Linked DNA regions of Homo sapiens: region 1 is linked to region 2. The links come from fine-mapping of genetic effects on gene expression. A gene starts in region 2. The other region holds a variant in brackets. All regions are shown on one strand. Distances are from middle to middle. Region 1 overlaps A2ML1 (alpha-2-macroglobulin like 1). Region 2 holds the start of A2ML1 (alpha-2-macroglobulin like 1).

Evidence for each region.
Region 1: its variant is fine-mapped to the expression of A2ML1 in esophagus mucosa (GTEx, PIP above 0.99). The same link has a PIP of 0.9 or more in amygdala, anterior cingulate cortex, caudate, cerebral cortex, iPS cells and nasal epithelium.

Annotation. Positions count from the first base shown.
Region 1 is chr12:8,857,457-8,873,294 of GRCh38, reverse strand. It overlaps A2ML1 (alpha-2-macroglobulin like 1), which reads right to left. Exons shown (of 36, transcript NM_144670.6): 25 at 15,707-15,788; 26 at 15,193-15,349; 27 at 12,340-12,414; 28 at 11,998-12,160; 29 at 9,287-9,501; 30 at 5,238-5,453; 31 at 4,938-5,065; 32 at 4,668-4,758; 33 at 4,092-4,160. Among named protein-coding and RNA genes, the nearest start is that of A2ML1-AS1, 34 kb to the right of the region's middle. The variant GCC/C (reference allele first, on the strand shown) is at 9,327.
Region 2 is chr12:8,814,651-8,830,488 of GRCh38, reverse strand. A2ML1 (alpha-2-macroglobulin like 1) reads right to left here and starts at 7,868. Exons shown (of 36, transcript NM_144670.6): 1 at 7,776-7,868; 2 at 7,124-7,307; 3 at 6,607-6,769; 4 at 710-762. The coding sequence starts at 7,837. All of the region lies in intron 1 of A2ML1-AS1 (A2ML1 antisense RNA 1), which reads left to right. RefSeq lists enhancers at 1,377-2,119, 15,536-15,838 and a silencer at 10,822-11,116.

The sequences.
Region 1 (15,838 bases), 43 kb before region 2:
GAAGTCCAGCCTGGGCAACAGAGTGAGACCCTGTCTCAAAAAAAAAAAAAAATCGTATTATAAATTTAGATATAGCGCTATTAACGCCTAATTGGAAGGGATTTCCAAAGTTCTTCAGGTATAGTGCTTCTCAAAGTGTGGTCGAGGGACCTCCCCTACTCCAGGGATCCCCGAGATTGCATCAGAATATCTGAGAGGTCAGAATTATTTTTAGAATGATATTAAGACTTTTTTTTTCCACTCTCATTCTCTTACAAATATACAGGAGATTGTTTCCTTCTGGGGAAAGTGATTTAAAAAAATAAAAAACAAAACAAGTATACAGGAGAGTTATCAGAGGCTACTTTATGTGTAATATTGCAACGGTTTGAATGTAGGAGTAAATAGGAAAATTTCATTCTCTTTGATTAAGCCAGATATTAAAGCAAAAATGCAAAACAATGTCACCATTCTTATTTTTTTGTTTTGGAAAATAGTTATTTTCTTTTTCTTTTTCTTTTTTTTTTTTTTTGAGATGGAGTCTCACTCTGTTGCCCAGGCTAGAGTATAGTGGCATGATCTCGGCTCACCGCAACCTCTGCCTGCCAGGTTCAGGCGATTCTTCTGCCTCAGCCTCTCAAGTAGCTGGGACTACCGGCACGCACAACCATGCCCAGCTAATTTTTGTGTTTTCAGTAGAGATGGATGGGGTTTCACCATATTGGCCAGGTTGATCTCGAACTCCTGATCTCGTGATCCACCCGCCTCGGCCTCCCAAAGTGCTGGGATTACAGGCATGAGCCACCACGCCTGGCCAGAAAATAGTTATTTTCACAAAAATTTTATTTATATTAAGATGTAGTGAGTTTATTATCATTTTTAAATTAATTAATAAATATTTTAAGATTGTCTCAGTTTTAATTTCTAATATGATAAAGACCAATAGTTAAAACCCACTTCACCGAAAGCTGTTTGAGGTCCTCAGTAAATTAAGAGTATAAAGGGACACTGAAACAAAGAATTTTTAGAACCACTGTTCTTTTCTATCATTTGGTCACCATAATGAATTAAAGCAAATGACTAATATGAACCAAAAGAAAGCTGGGGTAGCAGTTTTTTTTTTTTTTTCTTTTTTCTGAGATGGAGTCTTGCACCGTTGCCCAGGCTGGAGTGCAGTGGCGCAATCTCGGCTCACTGCAAGCTCTGCCTCCCAGGTTCACGCCATTCTTGTGCCTCAGCCACCTGAGTAGCTGGGACTACAGGCTCCTGCCACCACGCCCAGCTAACTTTTTGTACCTTTAGTACAGACGGGGTTTCACTGTGTTAGCCAGGATGGTCTTGATCTCCTGACCTCATGATCTGCCCGTCTCAGCCTCCCAAAGTGCTGGGATTACAGGCATGAGCCACTGCGCCCGGCCAGGTAGCAGTTTTAATATCTGACTAAATGGCACCCAAGGCAAGGGAAAAAAATTGTGTGTGTGTGTGTGGCGGTGGGGGAGTGTAAGAATCTAAGGCAAAAGTAAATGATATAAATATATACACATATATAGTAATGGGGAAAGGATAGTATGTACTAATATAAGGAAAATTTAATAAGAAGATATGTTCATAACATATATATCTAATTATGTAGTCTCAAATATATCAGGAAACAATTGGCAGAAATGTATGGATAAATGGATAAATCAAATATCATAATTAGAGGCCAGGCGTGGTGGCTCACACCTATAACTCCAGCACTTTGGGAGGCCTAGGCAGGCAGATCACTTGAGGTCAGAAGTTCAAGACCAGCCTGGCCAACATGGTGAAACGCTGTCTCTACCAAAAAAATACTAAACAAACAAACAAAAACCATCATAATTGGATATTTTAACACATGCTTTTCAGAAATTGTTAAATCAAGCAGAAAAATAAGCAGAGTTATCAAACACATGAACAACAGAAATAATGATCTCAGACTTCTAGATCAGAATCCAAGCCCAAGAGAAAAGAAATAGATGTTCTTTTGGAGTGCACACTGAACACCTGCAAAAACAGATCATGGATTAGGTCATGGAAGAAACTTCAGCACATTCCAGGCAATCAGGATCATGAAGACTGTATTCTCAGACCATAATGCAACAAAATTAGACATCAGGAACAAAAGGATGGCTTTAAAAATTCCATGTGTTTCCCAACAAATTAAGAAATAGTTAGAACTGAATGACAGTAAAAACATTGCTTGTCTGAGATTGTGGGAGAGGGATGGCATGTACCTAGAGGGACGCTTATAGTGTAAGTTCATCAAAAAATAAGGAAGACTATATATGTGAATAAGGTCATCCTCTGGTGAAATTGATCAAGAACACAAGGGAGAAGACACACAGAAAAGAGGAAATAACCACAGATACAATGATTAGCACTGGCTTTTAGATCATTAGGCCTGTTAACTCAAATTAGAAGCCAACTGGCAGATTTGGCAGGACACACTGAGGAGCAGTTCATTGCAGTCTCAGGCATGGTGTCATGGAAATCAGACTCCCCAGGTTCTGCTCCCACCCTAGACACTGACAGATGGTATGACTTGGACAACCCACTCTCTCTCTCCAACTCTGTCTCCTTATGTCTAAGGAGGGTGGCTGTAAGACTTGAATAAGTCATGTATGAAAGCATCATAAACTTGGCAAAGTTTTAAACAGCAACATCATGATTACAGGGTAGTGCCAGATAAGCTAACCCGAGCTGTCTCAAAAGAAACTATACACAACTCGGCTGGGTGCGGTGGCTTACGCCTGTAATCCTAACACTTTGGGAGGCCGAGGTGGGTGGATCACGAGGTCAGGAGATCGAGACCATCCTGGCTAACACGGTGAAACCCTGTCTCTAGTAAAAATACAAAAAATTAGCCGGGCATGGTGGCGGGCGCATGTGGTCCCAGCTACTCGGGAGGCTGAGGCAGGAGAATGGCATGAACCCGGGAGGCAGAGCTTACAGTGAGCTGAGATTGTGCCACTGCACTCCAGCCTGGGTGACAGAGCGAGACTGCGTCTCAAAAAAAAAAGAAAAAAGAAACTATACACGGCTCACACAACATAAAAAACCCTGGCTCCCTGGAAGACAGGAAACACAGTTAGATGATGGGGTTGGTGGGTGGGCAGGGGGTTGGAAATGGATGTTACTAACAACAGTATGTTTTGATTTGGGATATTCTTGTCTTTTGGTTATATTCAATAAGGATAACTTTGTTCCTTGTGTGGAATGGAATATCATGAAAAGGAACATTGTAACAATCTTTAGAACATTGTTAGTCCTTGAGAACTTCTTGTTTTGTTAAAATGAAAGGTTACATACAATGTCTGATTAATATTAAGTAATATTAACATTATGTTAAAATGATAGGAATAGCTATAAAGTGATGAGGGCTTACTCTATACCAGGTACAGTTCTAAATATTTTTACATGTCTTAAATAATTTAGTTTTTTCTATAACTCTAAAAGAACTATTTTGACCCCTACCCACACACATTTTACAGCTAACTTTCAACAGCTTGTCCAGTTACTCAGTCAATGCTAGAACCAAGATCACAGCCCAGGCAGTCTGGCTTCAGAGCTTCTGCTATTAACCACTATAACATACTCTAGAGTTGCAATGTCACTTGTGGCTATTGAGCACTTGAAATGAGGTCAGTCAGAATTGAGATGCACTGACAGTGTAAAGTACATACTGGATTTCAAAGATGTGGTACAGAAAAAAAAAAAGAATGTAGATATCTCATTAATACGTCTGTATATTAATTGTATGGTAAAATGGAAATATTTGGGGTGTATAAGCTTGCATAAAATATACCGTTAAACTTAATTTCATCTGTTTCTATACTTTTTAAATGTGTCTACCAGAAATCTTCAAATGTCGTAAACGGCTCACATTATAGGTCTGTTGGACAGGGCTCCTCTAGAGGCACAATGGGGTGTTTTACGGTATACCAGCATGGAGGCAGAACTCATGGCATGGTGTGGACTCACTCCCAGGCCCCTCATCCCCATGTGTGTGACACCCGTATATACAGATTAGAAGGGAAGTCATGAAGATCCGTAAGCAATCCAGCTCTTTGATCTGGTTCCTGAATACCTACCTCATCCAAGTAAATGTTAAGTGTGTCAGTTCCAAATTCAACCTTCTTCACCAGGGGTTGCTGGAGAAGCTGAATAAGAGAGGGAGAAAAAAAAGATACTAAGAGCCAGAGCCTTCCCTGGGGTAGTCTTCCAAAGCTCTGCCATGATCAAGGAAACAATATATACTGTGGAAAAGGTAGGAAAAGGGAACCAAGACTATTACAAGTTGCATGTCATATATCTGCTACAACCTTGCAGCCCATTTAAATAATCCAATCATGAGTTTGTGTGTATGAATATATACATATATGCACACATATATGTACATACATGCACATATATACATGTATATATACCTACATATGTATACACACACATATATATAATCACATACTGTGTATATGGATGCCATATATATATATGAAAACTACTTTTCTTACAAGTGTACATACATATACATACATATATATGTATGTATATACATGCCTTGTGTGTGTGTGTGTATACACGCCATGATGCCCATTTTACCAGTTTTTTAAATTATAACGTTAGGTCCCCTCACAGCTAGATAAATGAAGAAAACAGAAGTAACTTACTAACTGATTGGTGCCCTCCATGGGACTGAACCCAGATAGCATCTTCACTTCCACAATAGCCATATTGGAAGAGCTACGGCTCCCCACATAACTGAGAGCAGGAAGAAGAAAACACATGTGAGCCTATTACTTCAGTGCACTCTGCATCCCCAACACACACACACACACACGTACACACACACATACACAGACACACACACACACAAGTGTCCCAGCTCAGCTCCTATGACCAGGTGCTCTGCCGGCCACCAGCACCCCAGCTTTAATCACCTGGTGTGAATAGTGAGAGTCAAGGATCGAGGTGAAGTCGGTTGCTCACATCTAGCTTTTCCTATTTCCACACTAAGACTAAAGGTCTTCATATTTGTGGGAGGGAGAATATTGTATCTCAACACCGTCTGGTAGGAAGAAATAGGTAGCCAAATCAGACTTGGAAAGAACTTTAAAGATTGTACAGTTCAAACTACTTTTCTTACAAGTGAGAAAGAAAGAGAGAGAGAAGGCCTAAGGGGAAGATGCTCTCCGACTCTCCTTCCCAATGTCCGCTCATTCTCATGGATCTCTACTTACCTGCACATAGACACAGCCCTGGCCTGAGGCCTCCAACGTGTACATTCCAGGGACATTGGGCAGGGTATCCTGCTGAAATACCAATCTGTTAACTGACTGTATGTTGAATGTGCGCTGGAAATTCTCAGTGGATTTTACAACCAGGTTGATCTCCTCAGATGGCATGTAGGCGGTAGTGGCATATTTGGCAAGAGCTTGGAGAGCAACTACAGTATCCTGAGGGAAACAACCAAACGTATACTTACCATTTTGTGAGCCATTGGAATTAACCTTGAACAACTCTATAACCCACACATCTGGTTGTTGTTAGTTGGCTTGGATGATGACTTCTTTAAGTATTTAGAGAACTATACCCACCTCCTCTGGAGAAGCTGGCCTAGAAATCACAGTAGCTTGCTTTTTTTTTTTTTCAGATGGAGTTTTGCTTTTGTTGCCCAGGCTGGAGTGCAATGGCACGATCTCAGCTCATTGCAACCTCCGCTTCCTGGGTTCAAGTGATTCTCCTCCCTAAGCCTCCCAAGTAGCTGGGATTACAGGCGTGTGCCACCACATCCGGCTAATTTTGTATTTTTAGTAGAGAAGGGGTTTCTCCATGTTGGTCAGGCTAGTCTTGAACTCCCAACCTCAGGTGGTCCGGCTGCCTTGGCCTCCCAAAATGCTGGGATGACAGGCATGAGCCACCATACCCAGCCAGTAGCATGCTTTTATAGAAAATCACCATCAACAAGGTACTACTGAACATCCACAGATTACTTGGTTAACCTAATCAATTCATGTTCAGAAACCAACAGTTTCAGAATGAGTTATTGCTAGAAGCAAGTGGATAATTGTTCAGTATATATTTTACAGCTTCCTTATTTGGGGGAGAAACAGTAGTAACTTGATAGCCCTAGAAATTGCAGTCTATGAAGTCATTTAACTGTGTAATGATCTTCTACATGACAGTTGGAAGGAGTATAAGGGACCCTAGGAAAGTCCTTCCCTGCAGGCTGGCTTCTTAGCCATTATACCATGTGACAATCTTTTATTTCTCTGGGAATAAGACAGATAAACTGTCACTAAGTGAGCATGGTACAGTGATATTTGAACTGTTTCATTCTGAAAACATAATTCATATAAATTACAAGGGGAAAGAAAAATGAATGAAGTGTTCAACAAAATTGTTATATCTCACTCGTGTAAAATATCTATTACAAAAAATATCTATTACAAAAAAAAACCCGATTTCTTCATCTCACAAATGAAAAATACATTCTTATTTCGACATTATCACTGTCCTACAAAACAGGAAGACAGGTCACCCACCCTGGTGAAGCTGTGAAGAAGTTCTATCTGTGCAGCTTCACCATCTACAAACAATTTTTGTTTACCTTTTGTGGACTGGAGCCAGGGAGGTTTTTTACTGCTTGAACATATGGAGACAATTCAAAGAAAGGGACCTCACTGTCAGCTGAAAAACCAGTGTGGGTAATATATGATATATGACTTCTTGTGATAGCCAAGGATTTCATTGAAAAAGGATTCTGACATATACCTGTCACTGAGAGTTGTAAACATTTCACCCACTGCTTTCCAAAAATATTATTATATATTATAATTATTCAGGACCGAGCAAGAAGGAGTATTTTGTGATCTTTGGCCAAGAATTTCCCTGAAACAGGGAGGCATAGTACCATATAATTTTTTTAAGTTTCAATTAAGTCATTACCATATTTAAACTTGGTGCTTTTTTTTTTTTTTTTTTTTTTTTTTTGAGATGGAGTCTTGCTCTGTCTCCCAGGCTGGAGTGCAGTGGCGCGATCTTGGCTCACTGCAAGCTCTGCCTCCTGGGTTCACGCCATTCTCCTGCCTCAGCCTCCCGAGTAGCTGGGACTACAGGCGCCCACCACTGTGCCCGGCTAATTTTTTGTATTTTTAGTAGAGATGGGGTTTCACCGTGGTCTCGATCTCCTGACCTCGTGATCCACCTGCCTCGGCCTCCCAAAGTGCTGGGATTACAGGCGTGAGCCACCACACCTGGCCTAAACTTGGTGCTTTTAACATTTTTACCAAACATGCAACCTATTAAAAGATGTTCATTCTTTCAGGTCTGATTTACATGTTATATCTTCAGTGAAATTGGCTAATTTCAACAAATCAGAATATAATCTTCATGAGAACAAGAAATATATTTTCTTAGTTATTTCTGTAGCCTCATCAAAGTGATTTGGACATGGTAGATATTTAATATTTTCAGAATACATAGATTAATGACTACTCTCTTCATTATAATCTAAAATAATTTTTTATGATTTGAGTTTATCATACAATTCTACCCCTCTGTTTTTTCCATACTGCCACACCACTCATTCAATTTCCCAATTTCCCCTTACCCCTAACCTAGATAAAGGAAACAGTCTCCTGATCTCTTCAAGTCCAATGTTTCTCCTCTCTAAATTATCTCACACACCAAGTGGCTGATTAATCTTTCTGAAACAAAGTTAAAATTGTTGTTGTTGTTGTTGTGTTGTTGTTGTTGAGACGGAGTTTTAACTCTTGTTGCCCAGGCTGGAGTGCAATGGCGCCATCTCGGCTCACCGCAACCTCTGCCTCCCGGGTTCAAGCGATTCTCCTGCCTCAGCCTCCCAGGTAGCTGGGATTACAGGCACCCGCCACCACGCCTGGCTAATTTTGTATTTTTAGTAGAGATGGGGTTTCTCCATGTTGGTCAGGCTGGTCTCGAACTCCCGACCTCAGGTGATCCGCCTGCCTCGGCCTCCCAAAGCACTGGGATTACAGGCATGAGCTGCTGTGTCCAGCCTAAAAAATTTTTGTTTGTTGTTGTTTTTGTTTGTTTTTGTTTATTGTTGTTGTTGACACAGAGTGCTGCTTTGTCACTCAGGCTGGAGTGCAGTGGCACGATCTCAGCTCACTGCAACCTCTGCCTTCCGGGTTCAAGCAATTCTTCTGCCTCAGCCTCCCGAGTAGCTGGGACTACAGGAACATGTCACCACATCCAGCTAATTTTTGTATCTTTAGTAGAGATGGGGCCACATCCAGCTAATTTTTGTATTTTAGTAGAGATGGGGTTTCACCATGTTGACCAGGCTGATCTTGAACTCCTGACCTCCAGTGATCCAACCGCCTCAGGCTGCCAAAGTGCTGGGATTATAGGCGTGAGTCACTGTGCCCGGCTAAGACTTTTCTTATCCCTCAAGCTGATATGAGCTTTCTCTCCCATTTTGAAATTCGATATGTTGTACCTTTTGCATGTTTCTTATATTATAAACCAGATCCTCTTTGTAATACATAGACTTTGTCCTCGCTTTTCTTCTAGACTGTAAACTTTTTAGAGTTCAGACTATATCTTATTAGCTTTCTAATACCTGCAATAGCAGAAGAAGGATAGAAGGATATGTGCCCATGAATCTTGGTGTTATCTTTACAGACCCCATAATGGTCTTCCTAGTTTATTAATATGTACATTTAGCCATAATTATATATATCCTACTTGCATGTAAAACATGGACCTCATGATGTTGCTTTTTTTTTTTTTTTTTTTTTGGAGACAGAGTTTCACTCTTGTCACCCAGACTGGAGTGCAATGGCATGATCTCAGCTCACTGCAACCTCTGCCTCCTGGGTTCAAGCGATTCTCCTGTCTCAGCCTCCTAAGTAGCTGGGATTACAGGCACCTGCCATCGCACCTGGCTAATTTTTGTATTTTTAGTAGAGATGGGGTTTCATCATGTTGGCCAGACTGGTCTCGAACTCCTGACCTCAGGTGATCCGCCTGCCTCGGCCTCTCAAAGTGCTGCGATGACAGGCATGAGCCACCATGCCCGGCCCCAATGTTTCACATTCAACAAAAAAAAAAAGAAAATTAAATACATCTGGTACTATTAATGTGCTCTTATAACCCATTTTATGAATACTTCCATATATTGTTCACAGGCTTTTCCTCTCTCTAAGCCCCTGGACCGAGAAGGCAAGGACAATATGTTTTCCTCTATCTCCACACAAGATCTAATTCTACCTGATAAGTGGCAGTGGGAGAACAGGCTGTTTACCTGAGTAGAAGAGAAGCCCCCATATGCATTGTGTTGCTTG[GCC/C]AACCAAGCCACTATGCTAGTGGCCTTCGCTATCTCCTTTTGAGTCAGGCTGGGCTTGGTAAGCTGGGCCAACAATGCATATGCTGTGAGTTCCACATCTACAGCCGCAGGCTCAGACCAAGGGCTGGCGTTCGATGATGGAGTAGGTTTCTGGCTCCAGTAAATGGATTCTCCTATGGAAAAAGAAACATAACTAGGATGTCCTTAGAAGGAACTGGCTTTCCCACATTCACTTTGTAAATGCAGCATCTTAGAGCAGAGTAAGTACCAACTGAGAATTAAACAGAGTAGAAAAAAAATTTCTTAGATTTAGCTGATTAATTGACCTTGATGTAAATGCAAGGATGCATGTGCGTGCCTGTGTGTAAAGCTAGAAGCATCGATAAATGTTCCTGCCTCCAGCAATTACATGAAAACCACCCTTGTTAATTTATCAGTTTTGATGCTAATGGAAATAGGTAAATAGAAGCTTCTTATAAGAATCTCTGTGTTTGGGGGCAATTTTTGTTTGCTTACAGTTTTATGAATTTTTCAGCATTTATTTCATTTAATCAAAGATTTAGGCCGGGTGCGGTGGCTCACACCTGTAATCCAGCACTTTGGGAGGCCGAGGCGGGTGGATCACCTGAGGTCGGGAGTTTGAGACCAGCCTGACCAACATGGAGAAACCCTAACTCTACTAAAAATACAAAATTAGCCAGGCGTGGTGGCGCGTGCCTCTAATCCCAGCTACTTGGGAGGCTGAGGCAGGAGAATCATTTGAACCCGGGAGGTGGAGGTTGCGGTGAACTGAGATCACGCCAATGCACTCCAACCTGGGCAACAAAACAAGAGCGAAACCCAGTCTCAAAAAAAAAAAAAAGATTTAACATTTTAAGTAGAATAAAAATGGCAGAGTATATGAAAGAATTCTGAGAAACCATGAAGAAATGCTAATGAGGCCAACTATATGAAACATGCTTAGAAGGCAGTCCAATAGAATGAGACCAAAAGAAACCTCTGTGACAGCCAAGATGACAGATAATGGATAACTTGAAGAAAAATAAATAAGAAATGAGAAGACTGTACGTTAGAAGACTAATTAAACAGAATTTTAGAGATAATAAGTAACCACAGAAGGGCAATCTAATTGGAAGAACGTAACAGGAAACGTGAGCTTGCAATACAAGATAATGGAAAAGAGATCATCACAATAAACCAATACACGGTGGAACAGGTGTATTTAACCCATTGTCTCGGACACACATTTCATGACTGGAGTTGCTTAGACACAAGAGAAAAAACTACCTGACCCCCTGTGAGAGGACAGCTCAGCCATGACGCTCATATAAATGAAGGCTGAGACTGCACTTCTGCCTGGAAGAATAATTTTAAATACACAGCCAGATAAATGAAATGCATTAAAATTTTATTTACAAGATCTGTCATACTTCAAATAGTATTCTAAATATATTTAAAGTGGTCCAGGCCAGGTGCAATGGCTCACGCTTGTAATTCAGCACTTTGGAAGACCAAGAGGGGCGGATCACTTGAGGTCAGGATTCTGAGACCAGCCTGGCCAACATGGTGAAACCCCCTCTCTACTAAAAATACAAAGATTAGCCAGTGTGGTGGCGGGCACCTGTAATCCCAGCTACTCGGGAGGCTGAGGCAGGAGAATCACTTGAACCCAGGAGGCAAAGGTTGCAGTGAGCCAAGATTGCACCACTGCACTCCAGCCTGGGTGACAGAGCAAGACACCGTCTCAAAAAAATAAAAAGTAAAATAAAAAATTTAAAAAATATTTAAAGTGGTCCTACATCAAAGCACTTTCAAAGATCTCCAAAAGGGTGATTCCACAATGCCAATATATTTTCCGACTAGCTTCTTCAATGTAGTTTCTCTTCACATTAAAAGTATAAAAATGTGGCCAGGCATGGTGGCTCACGCCTGTAATCCCAGCACTTTGGGAGGCCGAGGCAGGTGGATCACCTGAGGTCAAGAATTCGAGACCACCCTGGTCAACAGGGCGAAACCCCTTCTCTACTAAAAATACAAAAATTAGCTGTGCATGATGGCACACACCTGTAATCCCATCTACTCGGGAGGCTGAGGCAGGAGAGTTGCTTGATCCTGGGAGGCAGAGGTTGCAGTGAGCTGAGATCACGCCATTGCACTCCAGCTTGGGCAAGAAGAGAGAAACTCGGGCGTGGTGGCTCATGCCTGTAATACCAGCACTTTGGGAGGCCGAGGCGGGTGGATCATGAGGTCAGGAGATCGAGACCATCCTGGCTAACACGGTGAAACCCCGTCTCTACTAAAAATACAAAAAATTCGCCGGGCGTGGTGGTGGGCGCCTGTAGTCCCAGCTACTGGGGAGGCTGAGGCAGGAGAATGGCGTGAACCCGGGAGGCGGAACTTGGAGTGAGCCGAGATCACGCCACTGCACTCCAGCCTGGGCAACAGAGCAAGACTCCGTCTCAAAAAGAAAAGAAAAAAAAGTATAAAAATGCCCTTTGAGCACTTGCGTGTGTTTCTCACAAACCTCCCAACAATAATTTGATGACTTAATAACTGTTACTAAAATGAATCCTAGAGTACATGTGTGGGACAGAGGTTACTAGGGAGATTATAGATAACTCACAGCTTATGTTCACAATTTCAAAGAACTCTCAACAGGACCAACATACCTGAGATGATAGCCTGTTGATCTAACTGTTTAAGGAGAATGTTTCTGATGTCCATTTCCCCAGCCAGGGAGAAAATGTAAGCCAACAGGGCCTGTGTGTAGAGGTTGGTCGTGGAGGTGGCCGAATTCTTGAGACACCGTAGACCCTGACTCACCATTGGGTCCTAAAAAGTGAAGATGAAGACTATAACTTATAAGGCATTCCTTTAAAAATGGCAAGTAATCAGGAAATCATCTTATCCTTCTTGACCTTAAAAGGGTGACTAGAGACAAAGATGGGTGAATGTCTCTAGGAATACGCATGAGAAGGAGGGTATCAAGAGCAGGAGCCAGGAGAACTTACATCTACATCCTTTCCCATCTCCAGCAATGCAGCTGTGACATACGCAGTCAAGGAGACCTCATCATCAACACCACCCTAGAGGCAAACAGGGAGGCAGTGAGTCAGGGCAGCAGGCAGCAGCTGCAAGAATTATGTGCAGATTGCAAAACAGCCTCCCCTCTGAATAGATGAATAATTTTTAAAAAGAAAAAAGAAAAGAAAGCTCTTTTTTCCACAGGCTTTCTGCAGCTCCAAGCCTCCAGGACACACAAAGAGGGAACAGTTTGGACTTCATAACTGCACAGCCTTAAACAGCCTGCAGGAGGCAGCATGTGGACTTCAGCTGAGTGGGTATTTAAGAAACCCAAGAGAAGGAGTTAGGAAGGGTAAGAGCTTTAAAGAAGGGAGGAATAAGGAGAGAATCTGCCGCATCACCGCATCTGAGCCTCCTCACATGCAGCTCCCCTCAAGCAGCACAATACCCAGCCCTTCTCCAGCAGAGATTAGGTGAGACCTTCCCTGCTTATCGCCTTTCCCAGAAAGAGCTAAGCAAATTTTTAAAAATATCTACTCAAATTATTATCCTCATTCTATAAATAAGAAAACAAACACTTAACAAGATTAAATAGCTTGTGGTCACGCACAGTGGTTTATGCCTATTATCCCAGCTTGAGGCCAAGTCGGTGGGGAGGATCGCTTGAGCTCAGGAGTTTGAGGCCAGCCTGGGCAACACGGTAAAACCCCAACTCTACAAAACCTGCAAAAATTAGCCAGGTGTAGTGGCACGTGGATCCGTGGTCCCAGCTATTCAGGAAGCTAAAGTAGGAGGATCATCTGAGCCCGGGGAGGTCAAGGCTGCAGTGAGCCATGATCGTGCCACTGCACTTCAGCCTGGGTGACAGAGTGAGACCCTGTCTCAAAAAAATGAATAAGTAAATAAATAAAAAGATTAAATAGCTTGCTCACGGTTACATGGCTCATCTGCAGCAGGACTGGAATTTGAACCCAGGACATTTAACTCTGGAGCTCATGTGCCACACCACTAACCTTGGCTACACAGAGGATGGATTTCTCAATGGACTGGCCTGCTCTCAAAAGAAAGTAGGAAGAGGCTGGGCACGCATAGGTCACGCTTGTAATCCCAGCACTTTGGGAGGTCAAGGCGGGTGGATCACTTGAGGCCAGGAGTTCAAGACCAGCCTGGCCAAACATGGTGAAACCCCATCTCTACTAAAAATACAAAAAGTAGCCAGGCATGGTGGCACATGCCTGTAGTCCCAGCTGCTCAGGAGGCTGAGATCACTTGAACCCAGGAGGTAGAGGTTGCAGTGAGCTGGGATTGCGCAACTACACTCCAGCCTGTACAACAGAGTAAGACTCTTGTCTCAAGAAAAAAAGAAAAGAAAAAAAAGGGAAAGAAGGAAGAATACCTCTGAGATCTTGCTCTAGTCAAGTCCTTTATCTTAGTAGAGACAGGGTTTCAGACTGGTCTCTAATTCCTGACCTCATGATCCACTCGCCTCAGCCTCCCAGAATGCTGGGATTACAAGCATGAGCCACTGCGCCTGGCCCCCACGCATATTTCATACAGTGTATAAGAGAAGAAGAAGACAAAAACTTAGGGGAGACTAATAAGATCCTGCAGAGGAAGACTAATGAATCCTATAAATAGATTTTTTTTTTAACACTCAAGATTTTTAATCCTTGCCCTGGAATAGCAATGTAAGTGATCTCTCTAGAAAAGTTTATACAAGTCTTTCTTGCACTGAGTGTGTCCTGAATTGAACAAGTTATCCTGCAGGATCTACGCCTCGCCCTCTGCTTGGGACAGGTACAGACAAGGTAGTGAACAGAAGAAAGCAGTGCCTCTGGAGTGCAACTGCCTGGTTCAAATCTCAGTCCTGCCACTTATTAGCATGCACCTTGGGCAATTTACTTAGTCTCCATGGCTTAGTTTCTTCATCTGTAAAATGGGATTAATAATGGCATACCAATACCTAGCTCATTGATTTGTTGTAAACATGAAATAATATCAAATAAACCACGTGCCTAGAATAGTGCCCAATAGAGTAAACTTCTTACAAAAGACGTTGGGCTGCCTACTAGTCCTCACCACAGGAAATGGCTTTCCCAGATGGATTTGGTGACACAGTAAGAGGCCCAGAGATCTTTTAGTCCAGTAGTATCAAATTTCAGTGTGTATCAGAATAATCAGGAGGGCTTGTCAAAACACAAATTTCTGGCCCACCCTCCCAGAGTTTCTCATTCAGTAGGTGTGGGCTGGGAGTCAGAATCTGCGTTTCCAACAAGTTCCCATGTGATGCCAATGCTCCTGATCTGGGAACTATGCTTTGAGAACCATGTTCCAGTCCACATTCTCTTTTTCTTTTTGAGGCAGGGTCTCACTCGGTCACCCAGGTTGGGGTGCAGTGGTGCAATCACGGCTCACTGCAGGCTTGACCTCCTGGGTTCAAGTGATCCTCCAACCTCAACCACCCAAGTAGCTGGGACTACAGGCATGCACTAACAAGCCTGATTAATTTTTCATATTTTTTTTGTAGAGATGGGGTTTCACCATGTTGCCCAGGGTGGTCTCAAACTCCTGGGCCCAAACGATCTGCCCGCCTCGGCCTCCCAAAGTGCTGGGATTACAGGCATGAGCCACTGCACCCAGGCTTCATCTGTATTCTCATTCTACAGACATGAAAACTGAGGCCCAGACCAGCTAAGCATTTTGATCACGGTCACCCAGAGCCACAGTGGAGATCAGGAGAAAACTGATTCCCAGGCCAGTGCTCTTTTGCTTCTACTCGGTCAGAGGTGTGGGGTCCTTCGAGACAGTGGTTGGCTGCAGGCTCCTGGACAGATCCGCACCTTCATAGCTGTGTGAAGGAGATTTCCCACGTTGGCATAGCAGCCACTGGGGAGCTGGTTTCCTGCCATCCACTTGAGAGCATCCTGGATGTTCTTGGGATCAATGAAGATGAATTTCTGAGCTTGGCCAAAGCATTTTGTGACAAACGCTGTCAGCCTACATGGGTAAAGAGGAAAATATGGCATGAAGAGGAATTTCCAGGTGAGGGTGCAATCATTTCTTCATTTATTTGGGTGTATACTTCCAGAAGGGGAGCTGAGGGAACATATGCCATAGCAGGCCTAGAAAAGAGAGGCATTAATGGGCACCAATGAGGACAAGAACAGGGGAGGCACAAGCTCAGGAAGATCGAGGGACTTGACCATCCATGAGGGTGAAATAAACAGTATTAAAGAGGTAGAAGACTGAGTGCAAGAAGGAAAGGGGTTAAGGGGAGAGGTAGTGGAATAGTTCCAGAGGGCTCAGGAATTATGCTCTGGAGTACAGAACTCATTGGGAATTGGGTGATATTACCATGTGTTTCCATTTCCATCTCGCTCCCCAAAGGCACTGTATGAGCCATTGCTGTGTTTGTACATCAGCTCCTTCTGGTACCCTGGGAAGCCAAATGTGGTTTTAGATCACAGCGACAACTTCAGAAAACAC
Region 2 (15,838 bases):
CCTACTTTGTAAATTATTTTGCCTCATAGAAACAGAGTGGAAGCGGACATTCTCCTTTCTGCCTTAAAAAAAAAAATGCTTTTGTCAGTCCTGAAGAAAAGGTCTTGAAGTTTGCGAAAACTCTTAAAATGAAAGGGGGCTGAGCATGGTGGCTCTTGTCTGTAATCCCAGCACTTTGGGAGGCCGAGGTGGGTGGAACACTTGAGGTCAGGAGTTTGAGACCAGCTTGGCCAACATGATGTAACCCTGTTTTTACTAAAAATACAAAAATTAGCCAGGCGTGATGGTGCGCGCCTGTAATTCCAACTATTTGGGAGGCCGAGGCAGGAGAATTGCTTAAACCCAGGAGGCAGAGGTTGTAGTGAGCTGAGGTCACGCCATTGCACTCCAGCCTGGGCCACAGAGCGAGACTCTGTCTCTAAATAAACAAATAAATAAAATAAAATGACAAGGAGCATAACCATCTCTCAAGAACCTGATGAATGTGTAGATACTGAAGCTGAGAACTGGTTACCTCTGCTTGTTCCTAGGCTGATTTAGGCTAGCTCCCTGAAGCTCGCCCAGCACTTCCAGTCCCACGCACACAGCAGTCTCCAACCCAGAGGGCCTCGCCTTGCCACGCCCAGGCTGAGAGGACTTCCACCCTAGAGAATCTCTCATCCTTTTCCCTGTTCTCCCTGCGCCACTCCTTCTCCTCCTCCCAACTCACCTTGTCATTCACTGGAACGAAGTTGCTATCCATGGTGACAATGCGGAAATACACTGGAAAGGAACAGGCATCATTAGCAAAGGGGATGTTTCCTGGCTCAGAATTTTTTTTTTTTTTTTTTTTTTGATACAGGGTCTCACTCTGTCACCCAGGTTGGAGTGCAGTGGCACAACCGTGGCTCACTTCAGCCTCAAACTCCTGGGCTCAAGTGATTCTCCCACCCCAGCCTCCGGAGTAGCTGGGACCACAGGCAGGTGCCACCACACTTGGCTAATTTTTGTAGAGACAGGGTTTCACCATGTTGGCCAGGCTGGTCTATGAACTCCTGACCTCAGGTGATCCACCTGCCTTGGCCTCCCAAAGTGCTGGGATTATAGGCGTGAGCCACCGCGCTCCGCCTCCTGCTCAGAATCTTTCCTCTATCCCTCCTCCTTCCTCACACATGCTCTGAGTCAGCAAAACCCCAACAGGTTTTACTTTTTTACAAAACCTGCTCTGAGAGTAAGGTAAAGTCCAAACACAGGCCTGGAGCTCAGGAGGCAGAGCAAGAGGCAGAATAGAAGCCTCCATTGACCACCCTCCTCATCCCCCACAGTAACACCAAACTGAACAACTGCCCACGCAAAACAGCACTGTCATAAGAACCAAAAATCAGAAGAGTGATCACAGTGCCTGGTTTTAACTTTATATCACTGAAAGAGGCACTGAAGAGGGTAGAAAAGACACACTTGAATTGCTGATTCACCCCCTCCCCGCCATCCCCCAGCAGTGACTGTGGTACAGAGACAGAATCGATGAGCTTGAGGGCGGGAGAGCACAGTGACTGTGGGACTTGGCTTTAGAATGCAATGCTGCCCAATCACAGGGGAAAGCACACAGGGCAGAACTCAGCCAGTGCCCATGGAGGGAGCATTTAGACCAGCGTTAGCCAGGGGTGAACTGCCCATCCCAGCGGTTGGAAGCTGAGTTCCGATTAGCCCCTGGGGCTCTAAATACTCAGCAGTGATAGCTGGGCAGTACTTGTCGTGGGCCTTGGGTGAGACTCAGAGACATGCTGGCTTCCAGTGATTCAGCACATTCCCAGCTGTGGTGACTATGGGGAGAGACTCCTTCTACTTGAGAAAAGGAGAGGGAAGAGTCAAGGGGACTTTGTCTTGCAGCTTAGGTACCAGCTCAGCCACAGTGGGGTACAGCACCAAGCAGGCCCTTGGGGTCGCCAGTTATGGGCTGTGGCTCTTGGATGCCATTTCTGGACCTGCTGTTTGTCAGAGGAGAGCTCACTGCCCTGAAAAGAGAGTCCCAGGCCAGGCACCATTCACCACAAGCTGGTGAAAGGAGACTTTGGGCCTCGAGAGAATACTGGAAGTATCCAGGCAGTACTCCTGTGGGCCTGGAGTAGTGGTGGCCACAGAGAGAGACTCCTCTGTGAAAAGGGGAAGGAAGAGTGGGAAGGACTTTGTCTTATGGCTTGGGTGCCAACTCAGCTGCAGTAGAACAGAACACCAGGTAGATTCCTAAGGTTTCTGACTCCAGGCCCTGGCTCGCAGATTACATCTCTGGACCTTCCAGGGTCATGGGGAACTCACCACCCTGAAGGGGAGGACACAAGCCTGGCTGGCTTTGTCACCTGCTGACTGTAGAGCCCTAGGGCCTTGAGCAAACATGGGCAGTAGCCAGGTACTGGTTACCACAGGCCTTGGGTGAGACACAGTACGGTGCTGGCTTCAGATCTGACCCAGTGCAGTCCCAATGCTGGTGGCCACAGGGGTGCTTGTGTCACCCCTCTCTCCAGGCAGCTCAGCACAAAGAGAGAAACTCTGTTTGTTTTGGAGAAAGTAAGGGAAGAGAACAGGAGTCTCCTCCTGGTAATCTGGAATTCTTCCAGATCTTATCCAAGACCATCAAGGAGGTACCTCTATGAGCCTTCAAGAGCCACAGAGATACTGAGCATGGGGTCCTCCCTAATGCAGATGAACTGCAGAGTCCAAACACTTAGATTACGACACCCAAGTCCCTTCAAATACCTGGAAAGTCTGCCCAAGGAGGACAGGTACAAACAAGTCCAGAATGCCAAGACTACAATAAATACCTAACTCTTCAATGCCCAGACACCAATGAACATCCACATCAAGACCATGTTGGAAAAAATTACCTCACCAGATGAACTAAATAAGGCACCAGCAACCAATCTCCCAGAAACAAAGATAGTGATCTTTCAGATCGAGAATTCAAAATAGCTGTTTTGAGGAAACTCAACAAAATTTTAGATAACACAGAGAAAGAATTCAGAATCTTATCAGATAAATTTAACAAAGAGAAAAAAAAAGAGGTATTGACTTTAAAGAGGAGGTTGAGAGAGAAAATGAGATGGAAAGTTTATTCAAAGTGAAAATAACAGAGAACTTTCCAAACCTAGAGAAAGATATCAATATTATTATTATTTGAGACAGTCTCGCTCTGTTGCCCAGGCTGGAGTGCAGTAATGTGATCTTGGCTCATGTGACCTCCGCCTCCCTGGTTCAAGTGATTCTCCTGCCTCAGCCTCCCCAGTAGCTGGGATTACAGGCACAGGCCACCTTGCTTGGCTAATTTGGTATTTTTAGTAGAGACAGGGTTTTGCCATGTTGGCCAGGCTGGTCTCGAAATACTCATCTCAGGTGATTTGCCCACCTCAGCCTCCCAAAGTGCTGGGATTACAAGCATGAGCCACTGAGCCCAGCTGAGAAAGATATCAATATTAATTACAAGATTATAGAACACCAAGCAGATTTAGCCCAAATGAGTCTACCTCAAGACATTTAATAATCAAACTCCCAAACATCAAGGAATAAAAAACAAAAAAGAATCCTAAAAGTGCAAGAAGACAGACGTGGTGGCTTACGCGTGTAACCCCAGCACTTTGGGAGGCTGAGTGGGGAGGATAACTTGAGGTCAGGAGTTGGAGACCAGCCTGGCCAACATGGCGAAACTCCATCTCTACCAAAAATACAAAAATTAGCCAGGGGTGGTGGCGCTCACCTGTAAACCCAGCTACTCGGGAGGCTGAGGCAGGAGAATCACTTGAACCCAGGAGGCAGAGGCTGCAATGAGCAACCATTTATTGCATTCCAGCCTGCGCGGCAGAATGAGACTCCATCTCAAAAAACAAAAAAACAAAAACAAAAATTAGCTGGGCATGGTGGCGCATGCCTGTACTCCCAGCTACTTGGGATGCTGAAGCACAAGAATCACTTGAACCCAGGAGGCAGAGGTTGCAGTAAGCAGTGATCCCGCCACTGCACTCCACAGCCTGGGCAACAGAGGGAGACTCTGTCTCAAAAACAAAAAAAATTCAGTAACATTTCTATATGCCAACAGGGAACAATCTGAAAAAGAAATTAAGAAAGATAATTCCATTTACAATAGCTATAAATAATATAAAATACCTAGGAATAAACTTTACCAAAGAAGTGAAAGATCTCAACAATAAAAACTATAAAATACTGATGAAAGAAATTGAAGAGGACACACAAAAACATGAAAAGAGATTTCATGTTTCTGGATTGGAAGAATTGATATTGTTAAAATTCCGTACTACCTAAGGCAATCTACAGGTTCATTGCAATCCCTATCAGAATACTAATGACATTCTTCACAGAAATTCTACATCCTAAATCTTAGGACTTTTGTAAAAAAAATCATAAAATTTTTATGGAACCATAAAAGACCTAAAATAACCAAATCTATTCTGAACAAAAAGAACAAAGCTGGAAGAATCACATTACATGACTTCAAATTATACTGCAAAGCTATAGTAACCAAAACAGCATGGTACTGTCATAAAAACAAATACATAGACCAATGGAACAGAATAGAGAACCCAGAAACATGTCTAGGGTGAACTCATTTTTGACAAAGGTGACAAGTGTATACACTGGAGAAAGCACAGGCTCTTCAATAAATGGTTCTGGGAAAATTGGATATCCATATGCAGAAGAATGAAACTAGACCCTCATCTCTCTCCATATAGAAAAATCAAGTCAAAATGGATGAAAGATTTAAATCTAATACCTCAATCTATGAAACTATTATATATAAGAAAACTTTGGGGAAACTCTCCAGAACATTGGTCTGGGCAAAGATTTCTTGAGTAATACCCAAGGAGCACAAGAAACCAAAGCAAAAATGGACAAACAGGATCACATCAAGTTAAAAAGCTTCTGCACAGCAAAGGAAACAATCAACAAAGAGACAACCCACAGAATGAAAGAAAATATTTGCAAACTACCCATCTGACAAGGGATTAATAACCAGAATATATAAGGAGCTCAGACAGCTGTATAGGAAAACATCTAGTAATCAGATTAAAGAACGGGCAAAAAGATCTGAATAGACATTTCTCAAAAGAAGACATACAAATGGCAAACAGGTATATAAAAAAGGTGCTCAAATCATTGACTGTCAGAGAAATGTAAATCAAAACTACAATGAGATATTATCTCACCCCAGTTAAAATGGCTTTTTTCCAAAAGACAAACAATAATAAATGCTGGTGAGGATGTGGAGAAAAGAGAACCCTCATACACTGTTGGTGGGAATGTAAATTAGTACAACCACTATGGAGAACAGTTTGGAGGTTTCTGAAAAAAACTAAAAATAGAGCTTCCATATAATCCTGCAAGCCCACTGCTAAGTATATATACAAAAGAAAGGAAATCAGTATATCAAAGACTATCTGTGCTGCCATGTTTATGGCATCAGTATTCACAATAGCCAAGATATGGAAGCAACCTAAGTGTCTATGAACAGATGATAAAAAATGGATTAAAAAATGTGGTACACATACATAATGGAGTACTATTCAGCCATAAAAAAGAATGAGACCCCATCCTTTGCAACAGCCTGAATGGAACAGGAGGTCATTATGTTAAGTAAAATAAACCAGACACAGAAAGACAAACTTTCCATGTTCTCATTTATTTGTGGGAGCTAAAAATTAAAACAATTGAAGTCGTGGAGATAGAGAATAGAATAATAATTTTTAAGTGTGTGGAAAAAAATAAGGTAAAAGGAAAAAAATTTTTTTGAAAGAGAGAGAGAGAACAGAATGATGGTTACCAGATGCTGGGAAGGGTAATGGTGGGCAGGATGAGGGGTGGGGTGGGAATGGTTAATGGGTACAAAAATATATTTAGCTAGAATGAATAAGATCTAGGGATCTTGTAGTTTTTAGCACAAAGAGTGACTACAGTCAACAATAATTTATTGCACATTTAAAAATTACTAAGAGAGTATAATTGGATTGTTTGTAATACAAGGAAATGATAAATGCTTGAGGTGATGGATACACATGTACCCTGATGTAATGATTACACATTGTGTGTGTGTATAAAAATATCTCATCTACCCCATAAATATATATACACCAGCTATGTACCCACAAAAATTTTAAATAAAAAAATAAAAAAAACCCAAACATAGTTTCTTTTCAGGGTGCCTGACTTTGAAATCTCAGAATGAAGTGCCCCTGTAAGGACGAATGAACAAATACAAAAAAAAAAAAAAAAAAAAAAAAAAACCCCAGTAGCTCAAGCCAAATGCCCTCAGTGCTTTCTTAGCCATTTACAAGCAGTTTGTTGTAAGGCCCAGCAACCCAGTTATACTTGCCAAATTCTATTCCAGAAGAAATGTGTACTTTTGTTTTAGATACACAAACTCAGTAGCAACCCCCACCTACTTCTCTTGCTTGTGTAGCGCAGCATGTATTCAACACTTGCACTACTTAATCCCCCCAGATTTTCCTCTCCTCTGCACTCCTTTTTTTCCAAAGCCTACTGTCAAACCACAAATCCCCTCTTTACCCCTGTGCACAGCGGTTTCCCCAGGTTTTAGTCGAACCCCAAATATGTGACTCTTACCTTGCTGCCCTGGGGTGTAGAGAGGTTTGTCAGTCTGTACAAAGGTGCCGTTCCCCTGCCTCTGAATTAGAACCTTTTTCTTCTCCTCAAAGCTGATGTTATTTCCAACTCCCGACACCCGGATTGTGGCCACTTCTTCTGTGCCACCAGCAGGAGGTGGTACCTGACCAAGAAAGGGGACTTCTGGGGAGGGGTAAGGGATTGGGGGAACAGAATCAACTGGTCTCAACCCAACAGTGAGTTAAAGGAAAGAGCTGAGTTAGATGGGGGTAGCAAGGATAGAGACATAAAACAAATTACCACGAGGAAGAATTAAGGTCAGGAACTAAAGGGAGAAATCCTAGGTCGAGGAAACCGTGGGTGAGTTATAGCCGGGGATTGAGGTTAAGTTGAGAAAAAATAGGTTTAGAGGCCGTGGCAAAAGATAACAGAAATTATACTTAAAGTAGATTATAGTGAGCCTAGGGAGGAGAATAGGCAAGTAAGGGATTCGAGTGAGGGCTGAGTCTGTGCTTACAAGAAAGGAGATACAATGTAAGTGCCTCTTCTTCAGTCCAGAGTATTCTAGCAACTTCTGGGTCTTGTCCTTGGTCTCCAGAGTAACCGTGAATTTAACATCACTGTACCCAGGGCTCAGGTCCAAACAAACCTTCTGAACGGAGGGGAAATTTAGCCGGGCTGGTAATGTCACCAGGTAGTTTCTATTAAAGGAGCAGAAGGATTTCAGGGCAATAATGATTCATTCACTCGAAAAATCCAGCACTCTCCTAAGCGCTCAGCAAGTAGCAGTGAATTAGACAGACCAAGCCCCTGCCTTCCTTATGCACCTCATTTTCTACAAGAAGCAGAGGGGCAACGACTCAGTGCACAGTCTTCAACTTCCGCCATCAGGAGGCCCTCACCGAGCACACATGCCTAGAGCACCAAGGAGGAAATTAGGCCTATTTCAGAAAACAGGGCACATTTTAATATTTATCTTTTTTAAAGCTTCCTCTTCATGCGTCAGCCTCCCTCTCTGGGTAAAGGATCAGTGGAACCAAAGAAGAGAAAAAAGGAGGAGGAAATTAAGATAAACCAAAGTTGATCTCCCCATCTCCATATAAATGTTTGAGAAAGTTAGGCGAAGAAGCCGCTGCCCTAATAAACCAATTCTGACACCAAGCACTCACGGAAGTTCTTCTGCAATGGCTGGTGATAGGGCCAACATTCCTAGAAGGAGCTGAGCCCACATCTTTGTGGGTGAGACAGATTTTTCCAGGGTCAGGGGCAGAGATCGCTCCGCGTAGCTTTATATACTAATTCCAGGTAGGGTGTGCAGTGATGACTGATGCTATAGTCAGTCACCTCCTGGCACCTGGAACACAGGAGGACTGTGTTCCTCCTTCTGTAACCACCAGGTTAGGTGGTGGACCAGGGTAGGGCCACTATTCACTTCTTTAAAGTTGTTTCTGCCTGGAACATCCATACTGGTTCAGCCAGTTTTGGGGGAAAACCAGAGCTGAGTATTCATAATGGTAAAGCTCTCAGAACATATTTTGAACTCCTCCCTTTTTTTCTGGTCTCATTCCAATTCCTGTTCTCATTTAATGTCCTTATTTTCTTTTATTATTCAATTAAGGTGTAGTTGGGAACACGGGTATGAGAACAGTTTCAATAGAAAAGCAGTAAACTTGGCCGGTCACAGTGGCTCACGCCTGTAATCCCAGCACTTTGGGGGGTTGAGGTGGGCAGATCACCAGGTCAGGAGTTCAAGACCAGCCTGGCCAACATAGTGAAACCCTGTCTCTACTAAAAATACAAAGAAAAAAAAATCAGCTGGGCATAGTGGTGGGTGCCTATAGTCCCAGCTACTTGGGAGGCTGAGGCAGGAGAATCGCTTGAACCCGGGAGGTGGAGGTTGCAGTGAGCCGAGATCATGCCACTTTACTCCAGCGTGGGTGACACAACGAGACTCTGTCTCAAAAAAAAAAAAAATTAATACTACTCAGTATTGTTGTGACTGTATGGAAATAGGGACACACACAGTCCTAGAGAAAATAGAATGTGGATAACTTTCTCATGGCAATTTTGTAATACACACCAAAGCCTTTGAGATTTGCATATTCTTTCACTCAGCAACTCCTACTCTGGAAATGTTTCTTAATGAGGAAAAAAAGGACAGCATGCATGTATGCACAAGTGTAACACTGAGTTTTTTCACACTGTTCTTTCTTTTTTTTCTTTTCTTTATTTTTTATTTTTTTGAAGTAGAGTCTCACTTTATCACCCAGGCTGGAGTGCAGTGGCACAATCTCAGCCCACTGCAGCTTTGACCTCCTGGGCTCAAGCGATCCTCCCACCTCCACCTCCTGAGTAGCTGGGACCACAGGTAGGCACCAACACTCCTGGCTAATTGTTTTGTATTTTTAATAGAGACAGGGTTTCACCATGTTGCCCAGGCTAGTCTCGAACTCCTGAGCTCCAGGGACCACCTCAGCCTCCCAAAGTGCTGGGATTACAGGTATGAGCCACCGTGCCCAGCCCACAGTGTTCTTTATGATGGTAATACTTAGAAGTCACCTAAAATATAAATTAGTCTAAGTGCAGTGGCTCATGCCTATAATCCCAGCTTTTGGGAGTCAGAAGCTGGAGGATTGCTTGAGCCCAAGAGTTTGAGACCAGCCTGGGCAACATAGTGAGACCCCGTTTTGTAACCACCCAATGGATTCACCTTGCTTGCTGCCTAGACAGAGCCGATTTATCAAGACAGGGGAACTGCAATGGCAAAAGAGTAATTCACGCAGAGCCGGCTGTGTGGGAGACTGGAGTTTTATTATTACTTAAATCCTTGAGCCTTCGTGGATCAGAGTTTTTAAAGATAATTTGGCAGGTAGGGGCTTGGGAAGTGGGGAGTGCTGATTGCTCAGGTTGGAGATGGAATCATAGAGGGTCGAAGTTAGATTTTCTTAATGTCTTCTGTTCCTGGGTGAGATGGCAGAACTGGTTGGGCCAGATGACTGGTCTGTGTGGTGTCAGCTGATCCCATGGAGTGCAGGGCCTGCAAAATAACTCAATTACTGATCTTAGGTTTTACAGCAGTGATGTTATCCCCAGGAGCAATTTGGGGAGGTTCAGACTCTTGGAGCCAGAGGCTGCATGACCTCTAAACTGTAATTTCTTTTTTTTTTTTTTTGAGACAGAGTCTGGCTCTACCGCCCAGGCTGAAGTGCAATGGCGCGATCTCGGCTCACTGCAAGCTCCGCCTCCCGGGTTCACGCCATTCTCCTGCCTCAGCCTCCCGAGTAGCTGGGACTACAGGCGCCCGCCACCACGCCCGGCTAATTTTTTGTATTTTTAGTAGAGACGGGGTTTCACCGTGTCAGCCAGGATGGTCTCGATCTCCTGACCTCGTGATCCGCCCGCCTTGGCCTCCCAAAGTGCTGGGATTACAGGCGCGAGCCACTGCACCCGGCCTCTAAACTGTAATTTCTAATCTTGTAGCTAATCTGTTAGTCCTACAAAGGCAGACTGGACCCCGGGCAAGAAGGGGGTCTTTTTGGGAAAGGGCTGTTATCAATTTTGTTTCAGAGTCAAACCATGAACTGAATTCCTTCCCAAAGTTACTTCGGCCTATGCCCAGGAATAAACAAGGACAGCTTAAGGGTTAGAAGCAAGATAGAGTCGGTTAGGTCTGACTTCTTGCACTGTCATAATTTCCTGTTACAATTTTGCAAAGGCAGTTTCAGTCTGTATAAAACATTTCTTTAAAATTAGCTGAGTGTGGTGGTGCACGCCTGTAGTCCCAGCTACTCTGGAGGCTGAGATGGTAGGATTTGCTTGAGCCCAGGGGTTCAAGGCTGCAATGAGCCATGATAGCACCACTGCACTCCAGCCTGGGCAACAGTGAGAACTTGTCTCATAAAATAAAATAATAAAATAGATTAGCCAGGATGCTCTCTGGGACCAATGATCATCCTATATCAAACCAGCCTAAACAAAAAAGTGTTTTTGGTAACTGGAATGGATCCAACAGGAAGAATGAGCTTATGGAACCAGAGCACCTTGAAAAACTTGACAGCCCAGGAGTGGAGACGTGGTGCAGCCAGGGCCGACTCCTCCCAGTCCTTCTCTCTTGTGTACTTGTCTCTGATTGGTTCATTTTCTCCTACTGCACACAAGCTTTTCTTCAAGTCGTAGGGAGGACGGCAGCTGGGAGCCCTCAAGCCATATTCGTTCAGCTCCACGACCCCAACTGACAAAATTTTTCACCTATGTTATAGAAATTCCCGAAGAAGGACTGTGTTCCTCCCTCTCTCGCTGGCTCACCTCTGAATCAGTCACTGTAGTCAGGAGGGTATGATAGGCAGGGCCTGGGTCATTCTCCCACCTAAAGGCCAGGGTGATGGGGTACTGTGATTGGCCACCCCTTTAGAACCACAGGGAGTTGGGGAGGGGAAATTGTTCAAAGAAATCACTACAGTAGGAAAAGTGTTGGTGTAAAGAGCTGCAAACATAAAACATTAAGTCTATTACAATGCCCCATAAAGAGTTCGGTTGAATAAACTGTCATGTTAATATAAAGCAATACTCTGCTGCCATTAAAAATAATGTTTTCATGATAAGGGGAATTATTTGCAATGCTAATTGAAAGGGGTTGGGGCTGGTGCAGCGGCTCACACCTGTAATCCCAGCACTTTGGGAGGCCGATCCGTAGGAGCTCGAGACCAGCCTAGTCAACATGGCGAAACCCTGTCTCTCCCAAAAATACAAAAATTAGCCAGGCATGGTGGTGGGCGCCTATAATCTCAGCTACTCGGGAGGCTGAGGCAGGAAAATCACTTGAACTGGGGAGGTGGAGGCTGCAGTGAGCTGAGAGCATAACATTGCACTCCAGCCTGGGCAACAAGAGTGAAATTCCGTCTCAAAAAAAAAAAAAAAAAGAAAAGAAAGGGGTTGGGGAAAGTGATACAAAACGACATGTGGCAAGTTCCACTTTAACTTGGAATTTGAAAGGCTAGAAAGAGTGTGGCTTGGTGGCTCGAGCCTGTGATCTCAACACTTTGGGAAGGCAAGGTGGGAGGGTTGTTTGAGGCCAGGAGTTCGAGATCAACCTGGGCAGTATAGTAAGACCCCATCTCTACCAAAAAAAAAAATTAAAAGTTAGCTAGGTGTGGTGTCACATGCCCAGCTACTTGGGAGGCTGAGGCAGGAAGATCACTAGAGCCCAGGACTTCAAGTCTGCAGTGAGCCATGATTGTGCCACTGCACTCCAGCCTGGGCAACAGAGCAAGACCCTGTCTCTAAGAATAAAAAATAAAAATAAGCTGGAAAGTGCATTGCCCCCTCTCTGACAATATGAAAAAGCCAGACAAACTGCAAAATCACTTTTCTTAAACCAAAAGTTGAACCTAAATGCTGAGCTGGGCCGGGGGCGGTGGCTCACGTCTGTAATCCCAGCACTTTGGGAGGCTGAGGCAAGCAGATCACAAGGTCAGGAGTTCGAGACCCGCCTGGCCAATATGGTGAAACCCTGTCTTTACTAAAAATACAAAAAAATTAGCCAGGCATGGTGGTGCATGCCTGTAATCCCAGCTACTCGGGAGGCTGAGGCAGGAGAATTGCTTGAACCCAGGAGGTGGAGGTTGCAGTGAGCTGAGATCACGCCATTGCACTCCAGCCTGAGTGACAGAGCAAGACTCCATCACAAAACAAAACAAAAGAAAACAAAACAGCTGAGCTGAGGTTGCAGGTAAGCTAAGTAGCCTGAAATTCAAGGACATGCAATCCTCATGAGCAGAGACCAGATGGGTGGAGTGTCTCATCAGTGCCAGAGTATGGGAGGTATTTAGGCCATCATACAAGCATGCAAGAAGAAAGCAGCTACATTTTTCATAAATTGCTAGAGGCCTAGTGCAGACTAGAGTGACTATAAGGAGCCTCTGGGTGTCACAGAAGCAAGGAGGGCTTTACTTACCCACAGGCTCCTTTCCATGACCTCTACCAGGTGTTCACAGGAAATACTGGGGGCCAAGTGGGAGACTACAAAGAGCCCCCTCAGTACTATGGGCATCAAGGACCGTATTTGCTATCATTGCAGAAAAGGCCCCAGCTGCCCATGCTCCTCTCTCGAAAGCCTTAAGACCCTGGGGAGGACTGGCAAATACTGTTGCTCCCAGGGCACAGGTGTTACCAAGGGAAGAGCAGGGAGGACCCTAGTCCGAGGGAGGGACAAGGAGCAATTGTGAGCCCAGAGTTCTAAGCTAATACTTTTAGAGGTCTCCTGAAACTGAAGGAGGAGCACAAAAAAATCTTTCCCACCCAAGACCAGCCACAAATTCAAAGCAGGGTTTGGCAGCCTGGCATAAGGAGTGGGGCAGAAATACTCATCCCCCAGGGCCCAGGCATATAAACCTACCTAAGATAGAAGATGAAGAGGGCAACAGAGAAGCACCCTGTCCCCTCACCATTACCCGAGCAAGAGCACCAAGTAACTAAGCAGTCCGCCACTGGCAGAGGGCATGAACGTGCAGAGAGACGACCTCTGTGGGGTCTGCTGTGTGGTGTACAGAGGAGAACGAGAGCTGAGGGTGGGGCACAAACACTGAGAAATAGCCAGCACTCCAGATGCCACCCTAAGCATAAGGCATCACAAAAGGAATTTGAAGCCTATGATGTACCGAAAGTAAACTTGGCAATTACAAAACCTGCACAGTTCACCTTTTAACTAGATTAACTCAATCCACCAAGCTAACTGCCTGAGAAGAGGTGTGTCCATTTCTAGTCACAAATACTATTTATTTAAATCTCTCCTGTTCTACACAAGATGTTTGGCAATCAATGAAAAATTACAAGTTGTATCAAAAGAAGAAGAAGATGACAACAACATCCTGTGAAGATACAAAGTAATCAATGGAACCAGGCTCAGAGCTGCCCTCCATGTTATAATAAAAGAGAGAGACTTTAAAATGCCCAGGAGTCATATGTCAAAGGAGCTCATGAAAAAAAAAAAAGGACAACAGACATGAGGAGATGGTGTCAGGGGTGGATTTCAAAAGAAAGGTGGAAGTGATCGACTTCCTGAAATACTAAACATGACAGACTTTATAGAAGTTTCAAAAATAAGATATGCAATATCAGGCCAGGAACAGTAGCTGAAGCCTATTAATCCCAGCACTTTGGGAGGCCAAGGCAAAAAGATCACTTGAGCCCAGGAGTGTGAGACCAGCCTAGGTAACATAGTGAGGAGACTTTGTGTCTATGTAAGATAAAGACATTAGCTAGGTGTGGTGACTTATATCTGTAGTCCCAGCTACTTGGGAGGCTGAGGTGGGAGAATTACTTGAGCCCAGGAGGCCAAGGTCGCAAGCAAGCTGAGATCGCACCACTACACTCCAGCCTGGGCAACAGAACAAAATCCTGTCTCAAAAAAAAAAAAAAAAAAAAAAGAAAATGCTGTATCAGAGATGAGCAGCTCCTTCTTCAGGCTCATTAATAACCTTGACAATACGAATATAGCTGAGGAAATAATCGATTGCCTTGAAGTTAGGTCAATAGAAATTACCCAAACAAACACAACAAGAAAAAAGAGTGAAAATCATTTGAATTCTTTTCAAATAATTTGAATTTTTATAGCACTTGAATTATCTTCAAGTGCTATAAAACAATATCAAATGGCTTAGCATACATATTATCAGAATCTTAGAAGGAGAAACGAGAAAGAACAAGCAGAAGACATGTTTGAAGAGACAAGAAATGAGAATTTTCCAAAAATAATGAAACACATCAAAGAATAGATTCAAGAATTATAAACAATTTCTCCATGTTTCCCCTAATTCACACACACTAGGCACATACATACATGCACGCACCGTCTCTTGGTTAGGTTGTAAAATTGTGATGGTCTCTGGAGGCTCTGTTTGATTTGGACACAGGGAAAACCAGTATATTCAATTGAGTTTTGGGTCACTCTACCACTCTACATAAACTCCATAAACTTTTTTTTTTTGAGACAGGATCTCGCTCTGTCACCCACCCTGGAGTACGGTGGCGTGATCTCAGCTCACTGCAACTTCCACCTCCCAGGTTCAAGAGATTCTCCTGCCTCAGCCTCCTGAGTAGCAGGGATTACAGGTGCGCGCCACCATGCTGGGGTAATTTTTGTATTTTTAGTAGAGACAGGGTTTCACCATGGCCTCCCAAAGTGTTGGGATGACCGGCATGAGCCACTGCGGTCTTGTTTTCCTTGGTTCCCATCACTCTTCCTGCTAAGAGCAATCGCCCAGGTCTGTGAACACCCACTCCTCCGTAGATGGTGAGTGCCCCTCCAGCTAGAGCTGCTGACTCCCTTTACCACTTCCATCAGTCAAATCGGCCCACCAGTGATTTTTATCTCTTCTGATCCATTTTAAAATCTATTTAAATGCAGCTATCAGTCTGATAACCTGTCTGGAATTTGGTGGGAGGAAATGTCCAGGGTTTAATAATCTCCCAAAGTTAGGCTGCATAAAACCCTACTGTTGACATCTCATGTGGTGCATATGGGCGAAACGGAGCCGTGTGGAAGGCTATTCTGTAAAGGGGTTAGCGTGCTTGGATTTGCTCTGGGTATCAGAATCCTGACTTGAGACTTTTAGCTTAGATAGACACCATAATATGTTACTTCGAAGGCTTCTTACACTTGGACCTTTATTGTAAATAATAGAAGTATTTCTGGAGTAAGAATTACATCAATTATATATTATCATGTTATGCTACATATTAGGCATAACATATATATATATATATATATATATATATATATATATATATATATAGTTTTTGTTTGTTTTTTGAGACAGAGTTTCACTCTTGTTGCTCAGGCTGGAGTTCAATGGCACGATCTCAGCTCACGACAACCTCCGCCTCCTGGGTTCAAGTGATTATCCTGCCTCAGCCTCCCAAGTAGCTGGGATTACAGGCGCCCCCCCACCACCCCCGGCTAATTTTTTTTGTATTTTTAGTAGAGACAGGGTTTCACCATGTTGGTCAGGCTGGTCTCGAATTCCTGACATCAGGTAATCTATCCACCTCGGCCTCCCAAAGTGCTGGGATTACAGGTGTGAGACACCACGCCCGGCCTATAATATATATTTTTTAATTATTATCCAAGGGTGCTGACATAAATTTCCAATTTATTCGTGCCAAAAAATTAGTGATGATAACTGCCAATCAGTACAGCTAAAGAAAATGTTTTCATTCTGGTGTATTTGGAAGT